Homo sapiens: one gene and its partner. The protein of the gene in region 1 purifies or fractionates together with the protein of each later gene. This does not show direct contact. Each region holds a gene or a part of one and is shown in the gene's direction. Other genes may lie near its edges. The genes, in order: ATP11A and TMEM132E.

Region 1 (4,498 bases):
ACCCCAATCCCACAGTCACGGTTTACAAGGTAGAAGCTTAGTCAAAATCCGGCTTCAGCAGTCAGGGTTCTTGCAGGAAACTGAAGGTGTTCTTGGGAGGGGATTTGGAAGCGAGTTTGATGAAGGACTCTTTGTTGCGGTGTGGTCATGGTTCAAGGATCCTTCAAAGGGTGCTGCTATTTAGGGACCAGCAACAATGGCAGACCGACAACATGTCTCACCCTAAGAGGCTTGGGGGCGGGGAGAAGTTCTGTTCGTAGAGCCTAGAGGAGTTGTGCAATGGAAAGGGCACCCAGGAAGAATCGTAGCCACAGAGTGAAACCAACACTGGTGGGTGTGGGGCCAGGCCAGGAAGGAGAGGGGAAGAGGCCCCTGCCTCCCTCCTACCCGGTCTGCAGCAGGTTGTCCCTGTGGGTGAAGATCCACTGAGGGGGACCGCCAGCTTCCTGAGCACAGGGCAGGCCAGAGCAGGACAGGCTGGGATGGAAAATGAAGAATCAGTGCTTTAGCCGACAACAAATGGGAGCCGTTTACTGTTTAGTCACTATGATTAGTGTTCACTAGTACTCATTTCTCTTCGTCTAAAAAGTGGCCAACACCATCTCTTTTCCACAAGCACTCGGGAGAACATTCATATTCAATTGCCTTCCTAAGACCCAGACGGGGCAGCGCTCTCCACAGGCCACCAAAAGGTGTTGCCTGTTTGGTTTCATCAGTGATTATCTGTGGCAGCAAGACAGGAAGTTGGAAATCAAGTACCTCAATTAAGTCAAGGCTGACCGTGGAATTAGAGAACAAGTGTTTGTTACCCCGGCCAGGTCACCCTAGGGAAAACAGGCATTCTCCGGGATTGAAATGGTGGTGTTTGTGTGGTAAATAGTTCTCAGTCCAGTTCAAAGCCAGCAGCATTAAGGACACGCCACCGCCACCGGGAGCTGGAGACCAGGCGAAGCTGAGCTCCTCTGTGGTTCACCAACCCCTCAGGCCGCCTAAGTGTCTTCTGCTGTCGCAGCTTTGGGGACAGAGGGGTTTCGGAAACAGGGGCCTCTTGTCTGCACCCTCCCCTCCCACTGACAGGCTGGCAGCCCAGGGCAGCCACCTGAGGAGCGTCCCTGTGTCTCTCCATCTGCAGAGCAGGAAAAGCCTGCGGGTCGGTGGCGCCACGCTGGGGCGAGACCCAGCTTCGGCTCAGGAGATCTCCCACCCAGCCGGACTCCCGCTCTCTGCCCGCGGCCCCCTCCCACACTCCCACCTCGCCCCGCGATCTCACTGCCCCATCGAGGCTTCCGGGCGGAGGAGAAAAGTTTTCCGGCAGGAACCCGGGAAGGAAGCCCTGGGACCCTGGCTGAAACTCCGGGTTTCCCCAGTGCCGAGTCCCTTCCCCGCCGCGCCCAGCGCCTGCGCCCCGGGAGGCGGAAGCAACAGGGGGGTTCCTCCCCGCGGCCTCTGACCTCTGCCCTCTGCCCTCTGCCCCCAGGGTCTGGGGCCCGGGCGGAGGCGCGAGGGGGCAGGGCCGGCGCGCGGGTGCGAGCGCGGGTGTGGGCGCGGGGCCGGCGGGGGCTGCGGCCGCGGGGCGCATGCTCACTTGCGCCGGTGACGTGCGCGCCCGGAGCAGGGGCAGGAGCCAGCGGGGCCCGGAGGCTCCAGAGGGCGGCGGGCAGGGGAGGAGGAGACTCGGGAGGAGCAGAGCGCAGGCTCCGCCGCGGCCGGGGTGCTCCAGCCGAGCCCAACCGAGCGGGCGGACCGACGGGGAGAGAGAAGGCGCCAGAGCGCGCGCGCGCGGCCCCGAGCAGCAGCCTTGCCGCCAGTGGAGCAGCTGCCGACGCGCGGGGCCGCGGACCCAGCATTCGCCGGCCGGGCCGGGCATGAGCGCGGAGGGGCCGCGGCCGCCCCCTGCACCGCCCGGCGCGCCGAGGCCGTGACCGGAGCGGGGGGCGCGGCCGCACTAGTACCCCGGAGCCCATGGGCGCGCCGAGCCGGGCGCGGGGGCGCTGAACGGCGGAGCGGGAGCGGCCGGAGGAGCCATGGACTGCAGCCTCGTGCGGACGCTCGTGCACAGATACGTGAGTGCTCCCGGCGCGGGCTGGGGGACCCGGGGACCAGACAGACGCGGGCCGGCCCCGCAGCCCGGACCCTGTGGCCGGTCCAGCCCCGGGGTCCCGGGAGGTCTCCGATGTCTGGGACTCGGACCGCCCCCGGGGACGAGCGGGATGCTGGGGAGGGGCCTCGGAGTTGACACCCTGGGGCTTCCGACGGGGTCTAGGTGGGCACAGCGCGGGGCCCCAGCCCCGGGCGGCCACCTGCTCCCTGGCCGCGGCCGCCTGGCGCCCCCTTCCCGCCCGCAGCGCCCTGGGGGTCCCTCGGAGAGGCTGGCTGGGGTTCGAGCTGTCCCGGCGGACCGGGCGCCCGGAGGGAGCCAACTTCGACCCCGCCGGGGCCCGGGTCTGGGGAGGAACCTTCAGATGCGGCTTCCGCGCAGCCGTGTCTGTAAGATTAAGGGATTGGGAGGAAGCGTTACACTTCTGCAGAAAAAGGTAGCAATTGTGTTTGTTCTTTAACACCCCTGGGGGATTCAGAAGCGGAGTTTGGAATCTTTTTATTTTTTACCTTAAAGTAACCAATTAGATCAGAAGTCCGGGGTCTTCTTGGGTTCCTCTGGAATTTGCCCCTTCAGTGATAAGCAAGTGAAGAGCTCAGGAGGGAAGACTCGGAAGGGGAAAAGTTGATTTTGTTTTACACCAGAGGAGGGGAAACCGGAATCCCTGGCGTTAGGTGTAAAAAGGGGTGTGTGGCCGGGCGCGGTGGCTCACGCCTGTAATCCCAGCACTTTTGGAGGCCGAGGCGGGCGGATCACGAGGTCAGGAGTTTGAGACCAGCCGGACCGACATGGTGAAACCCCGTCTCTGCTAAAAAATACGAAAATTAGCCGGGCGTGGTGGTAGGCGCCTGGGATCCCAGCTACTCAGGAGGCTGAGGCAGGAGAATCGCTTGAACCCGGGAGGCGGTGGTTGCAATGAGCCGAGATCGAGCCACTGCACTCCAACCTGGGTGACAGAGCGAGACTCTGTATCAAAAAAAAAAAAAAAAAAGGGTGTGTGTGTGTGTGTGTGTGTGTAGGAGAGGAAGAAAACTGTCCCAAGCACAGCGTTTCCTGCCACTGTCTTGCACAAGAGGCTTCATTGTTCCATAGAGGCTGGCGGTCACTGGTCAATCACAGGTTCGAGAAGTCGCATGCACCGGGTTTGATACTAGAGAGGGCAGTATTATGGGAACTTTGTTCTTTCCCGGCATAGGAATTACCTCAGGCAGCCTTTCATATTTATGAGCCTTCTTTAAATAGGAGACCTTGGCCAAAGATAGATAGGTTTCTTTTCAGTGGGGGATGCCAGATCAATGCTTTCCCCCGGATTTATTTATTAACCAAAAACCTCGGAGAGTCAAGGAGACTTGAGTGCACCTTACATCGTTTCCTGATCTCGGGGAAGCCTTAGGAAGGTCAGCCTGACTTACTTAAGTGGAGAGAACTCACCCCTGGTGATTCTGATGATTCCGATGCTAGATCTTGAAAGGCTTGGCTCCAGGAGCCTTGTGTTACTCCCTCACTGGTGCTCGAGCCCCCAGTTCAAATCCTAATGTGAGTGGTAAACCTGTGTTTCACTGTGGTAACGTTATAGAAGACCCAATCACAGTGACTATAGGTAACCTGCAGTGTAAGAGAAATGCTTTATTGGGCGGAAGCTTCTGTTCTCAGTTGTGTCGCTCAGAAGTGTGGGTCCCTAGACACCTTATTTTCCTGCTTTGTTTCCTTCGAGCGAAATGGAAGAGGGAAGGGACTAACACTCACTTTGCCCGCGGTGTTCCCAGTTCATTCCGTTCCCTTCTAACACTCAGTGTTAAAAAGGAGGGTCACGTTGTGGGGCTAATGTGCAGCCTCTTTCCATAGAAATGAGAGATGGATGGGCCAGCCCGGCTCACCCTTTGGAGAATCCCCCCTTCCCAGCCGGTTTCTGACCCCTTCATCTTGGGAGGGGGACAGACAGACGTCCAATTTTGATGCTTGACTCCCTTTCTCCAGGCCTTCAGCTGTTTTCTGTTATATAGATCTATATAAGTGTTTGCGTAGCTTGCATTTTTAATTCCCCTTTGCTGTATTATTACGCTTATGGCATCACATTTTCTTTTAATCTAAGCGGTAAATATTCTTTAGTGAACTTTTCCAGCATATACATTATTGGATAACGTCTCGGGAATACGAGTTGTGGGATAATATTATTTCTGTTTTTCTCATTCCACCTGTGTTTTTTGCAGTGTATTCATCTGGCTACCTCACCCATATTTACACACAGAGCCATTCATCTCTATCATTTTAAGTTCATGTCTATGGTATTAAACTAATTTGACTTTTTCCAGAAACAGTCATGATCTGTTTTCTTGTAATTGCGTTATCGTCCACTATGTAGGACTAAATTATATTTCCTTTTGCTACAGAAAAAAGAGT
Region 2 (4,447 bases), on another chromosome or scaffold:
CCATCAGGCATTAGGGGCCTAATGAGAATAATCTTCTTTGACGACTCCAGCACCTTCTATCCCCAGGGCCTCCAAGAGCTGGCCAGCTCTCCTCAGGCTGCACCTCCCCCCAGCTCCAGACAGATGTAGGGGTGGGGGAAGGGCCAGAGCAGCCCTCTACAGGCCCCAGTACCAAGCGAGGCAGCAACAGCCAGCAGCCAGGGAGGAGGAAGCCTTCCATGAAAAATGCAAGCACATTTTCCAAAAACAAAATGTCACCGTCCTAGATGAAAGGAAACTCTCAGGGTCAAGAGGGCTAGCATGGAGTCAGGCAGATGGAGGGCACGGTTTGAGTGCCCCAGCTGGCTTTGCTCTGACCTGGCCCCACACTCTCACTCCAGTTGAGTGCAGAGGTATGGAAGGGTGACCCTCAAGATCCATATCCTCCCCAGTAGGGATATGTCCATGGGATTGAAGACCCTGTCCCTCCAGAGCAGGGTAGGATTGAAATTCACCCTCTGGGGATTGGAGTTGATACCCAACGAAGCTATAAAATCATTGCCATGGATCCGATGCCTGGTTGACAGATGAGGTGTGAAGGTTGACTTGCCGGGTCTGATCTAGGTTGCACTCTAATGGAAAGGGCCTGATGGTGGGAACAGATATCACTCCAGCCACCCCTCCCGCTAGTCAGCAGGTGCCTGGGTGAGTATGCAAGAGGGGCAGTTCCCCACCCCCACCTCATGCCTCTTTAAAGGCTTGCTAAACAACCTGTAGGAAAGCACTGTCCCCTCCTCTTCTCCGTCTTCCTTCCCCAGCAACAGAATAAATAGGTTTCCCACAGCTGCGCCCCGGACCCATCCCGCACGAAGCTGAGCCCCAGAGCCCCCGCGGCCCGAGAGGAGCTGGGCACAGCAGCGAGGCTGATTCCCAGCCAGTGCCCAGCGAACTCTGGGGGTGGGGGTAGGGTGCCCCCTACCCGCGCCTCTGGAAGAGCGGCTGCAAAACACCTCCGGCGCCCGGTGGGGAGCGTGCATCCTTTGAAAAGGGACATCAGTGACTGCGGTGGCGTCTACCCTGGAGAAACGCAGCTGAGGGAGGTGGAGGCTCCTCCCGCCGCAGCTGGCCGGCCCCATTCGGGTCCCAGCGCTAGCCGGCGTTGGGAAGGAAAAATCAAACATAAAATAGGGGCGAGCGGAATCGCGAGGTCGGCCCTTGGCCCGAGTCTCATTAAGGAGCCGCGCGCGCCGCCAGGCTAGGAATGCGGAATGGACACGTGGACAGAGGAGGGGGAGCTAGGAGTCGGGGAGTCTCCGTGGCGCGCGAGCTGTGGGCCGCGCGCTCGGGGGCCACGTGACCACGGGGAATCTGGGAGGGGTGGGAGTGAGCGCGCCAAGCTCGGCGCCCGCTTCTGCCCGGGTGGGCGCTGAATCCCGGACGGAGGAGGAGGGCGGGCGAGCGCGAGTGTGTGTGTCTCTCTCGAGTCATTTACGGCGGAGCAGCCGGCGCGAGCGCCGAGGAGGCGGCGACGGCGGCGGCGGCTGCTTCGTGCAACTGTGGCTTCCCCCACCTCCTCTTCCTTTTTGCTCCTCGATTCTTCTTCTTCCCCCACACACGTCCATGGGGAGCCGGCTCCCCTGCCAGCACCTCCTCTCCTCTCGGCCCCGTAGGCACCAGCTGCCGCTTCCCTGGCCGCAAGCTGCGCAGGTGCCGGCTGCCCTGGCCCCTGGCGCCGCGCCCGCGTCTCACCGCCCGCAGCCCGGACTGGCGCGGCGATCCGCTCGCCCAAACTGACTCGGAGGGAGCGGGAGCCGATGCCCGGCAGCATCGAGACAGCGGGCGAACGGGCGTCCGGGGACAGGGTGGGGGCGGCGGGGAGGAGGCGTCGGAGACTCTGAACCCCAGAAAAGTTCAAGGTTTGTGCAGGTTCCCCCAGGGAAGGCGAGGAGCGAGGCGGGGCAGCGCGCCTCTCTGCCGAGACAGCGAGACCTTAGCGGGGTGGCCCGGAGCTGCCGTGAGCTGCAGGAGCCCCTCTGCATCTTACAGCGTTTATGGTCATCAAGCTGGAGTCGACGTCCTGGGCAGGAAGGGCTCGGGGCAGGGCGCATTAGCCGGCTTTCTCGCTCCCTCGCTTCTCCAAGCCCCATCTACATGGGGCAGCCCGTTCTGGCCGCGCCACCCTTGCCCCAGCCGCCGAGCGGCTGCCTGGGCAGGAGGCGCTGAGCCGGCCTGTGTGGAGCCTGGGCCCTGATCCAGACTGGAGAAAGCGCGCTGGAGCGGAGGAGCGAGCCTTGCGAGGGGACAAACATCTGGCCGCCCGCCTCGGGCATCCGGTCTGGGCGTCGCCTAGGGTGGTGGCGACCGGCGTCGCCAGTTTCAGCACCGCACGGAAACTTTTCCTTCTCCAGATGGATTAAAGTTGTCTGGATTTTCTCTTTCTTTGAGAAAGACAGCATTCATTTGCACCTGACCTGGGATTTTTATGCTGGGCTGCTGCAGGGGCTTGGAGGAAGAAAGCGGCGCTATCCATGTGCGGTTACTACCGAAACCGAGGAAACTGGGGATTGCGTTGGAAGTCGGCACCCTCGAGTGAGTTCGGATTCGAGCTGGGCCGTGAGGCCGGGAGATTCAGCACTGGGCTCTAGGTAGCCCCCGGGACGCCCGCGGCCACCGGGCTCCGGACTGCACGTGCAGCTCCCCCCGCGCCTCGCAGATCCTGCAGGGGGCACCAGCTGGGGGAGGTGGAGGCTCCTCCCGCCCGGAGCTGCGCCCCCACCGGCTCCGAGGGTGTAGCCGCCAGCGCCTGGGACGCCCCCTCCCCGCAAAGTGTCCCCGAATTGCACTCTCTGGTCCCGGAGCTGCATCTGAGACAGCCGGGCGCCACGGCAGCCCTGAGTTGGATGTGACCAAGCCCAGCCTGGGGCCAAGTCGTCGTCGACTGTTGCTCTCTCGGACCCCTCCCGCCCCCGCCTCGGCCATGGCCCCGGGGATGTCGGGCCGCGGCGGCGCCGCCCTGCTCTGCCTCTCAGCGCTACTCGCCCACGGTAAGTGTCGCGGCGCGGACTGGGGGTGAGGATGCGGCAGGCGCCACTGGAGGGGGTACGGGGAAGACTGGGGAGAGGAGCACCCACACCCCCTGGACTCGCAGCCGCCACTCCGGGTTTGGCGTCTCTGGCTGCAGCTCGAGTTACCGCCAGCCCCCGAGCCCTCCGGCGAGCTCAGCTGAGGGGACCGAGCCCGGCGCCAGAAAAGGGTGGGGGGAGGGTGTCGCTCCAGTCCTCTCCTGGTTATAAAGAAGGGTTCGAACCCGAAGGTCTGGGGTCGTGTCCGCCCACGGAAATCTAGAGGGATCCGAGGGATCCTCCGGATCGCGTCCAGGCCGCCCCCCGCCCCCGTCTCTCCCTGCAGCCGGCCGGGCTGGGGGCTGTTGGGATCCGCCGGGATCGCGTCTTTCCTCGCCCCGGGCGCGCAGGCCGGTGCGGGGCCGCGCCGCCCGTCGCCTCGCTTCCTGCGGCGGTCCTCGGGAAGGGAAGTGGACTGACTCCGGGCCGGGGAGCCGCCGCGGCTCGCACGCCCGCGGTCCTGTGAGCTGCATCTAAATGGCCGGCTTAGGCGAGCCCGGAGGGCGGGGGTCTGGGCACCCGCACAGGCCGGGGCGGTGGGCCGCGGGCCGCGCGCGGAGGGAGCGGGCTCCGCGCTCTCGCATTCTGCAATCTGTTGCGTCTGCTCCCCAGGCTCGCCCCGGGCTCCGCGGTAAAGGGGGTGGGAGAAGGAGGGATTGAGGTTGGCGCGCTTTGGCGGTGGGACAGCGGGCATACGGGTGGGGGGCAGCGGGTTTTTGAACAGCCCCCAAGAATGGGAAATCAGACCAGAGGGAAGGAGGCTGCAGCGGGCCTTCCGCAAGCTGGAGACGCTCCAGGAGGCGAGGGGAGCAGACCGAGGTGGGAGGGAGAGAGCTCCGAAAGGAGAGTGGAGAAGCGGGGCCCTCTGCTCCCTCCTAACGTGAAACCAGCCGACCTGGGATACATTTTCTTAACCAGCAAGGCGTGGCGGGGTTGGGGGGCGGGGGTGTTTCGATGCTCCACGCTGAGGGGTGAGCCTCAGGCAGAATGGAGGGCGCTTAGATGGAGGGGGCAGTGGGCTCTCCGCATTGGTGGAGCGCCCTCGGTGTGCCGGGCTCAGCTCTTGCCCAGATCTGCCCAGTCCCTAAGAGCCTGCTCAAGCTCGCCAGGAGTGTGCCCAAGGTCTCTAACCAGCGGCCTCTTTCACCCTGACCAAAGCGCATTCTCAAGGTTGAGAGAATAAGAAAAAGAGGGGCTCTCGGAATCGTAGGGTCCTGGGGCTAGGAGGGGGGCGGGGAGCAGGCAGACCTCCCTCTATGGGTGGCTTGGTTATTCCCGGCTGAGGTAACACCAGGGGGGGTTGTTTTGCGTTCAGTTCACCAGAGACAGCTAACCTCAGTTCTCTA

The links.
Region 2: the proteins of ATP11A (region 1) and TMEM132E fractionate together in Homo sapiens (co-fractionation; one large-scale study listed by BioGRID). This does not show direct contact.

The regions. Positions count from the first base shown.
Region 1 is NC_000013.11:112,688,393-112,692,890, forward strand, and holds the start of ATP11A (phospholipid-transporting ATPase IH), read left to right. Parts: upstream 1-1,645; 5' UTR 1,646-2,024; coding exon 2,025-2,063; intron 2,064-4,498. UniProt on the Homo sapiens protein: Catalytic component of a P4-ATPase flippase complex which catalyzes the hydrolysis of ATP coupled to the transport of aminophospholipids, phosphatidylserines (PS) and phosphatidylethanolamines (PE), from the outer to the inner leaflet of the plasma membrane.
Region 2 is NC_000017.11:34,578,121-34,582,567, forward strand, and holds the start of TMEM132E (transmembrane protein 132E precursor), read left to right. Parts: upstream 1-1,461; 5' UTR 1,462-2,956; coding exon 2,957-3,023; intron 3,024-4,447. UniProt on the Homo sapiens protein: Required for normal inner ear hair cell function and hearing.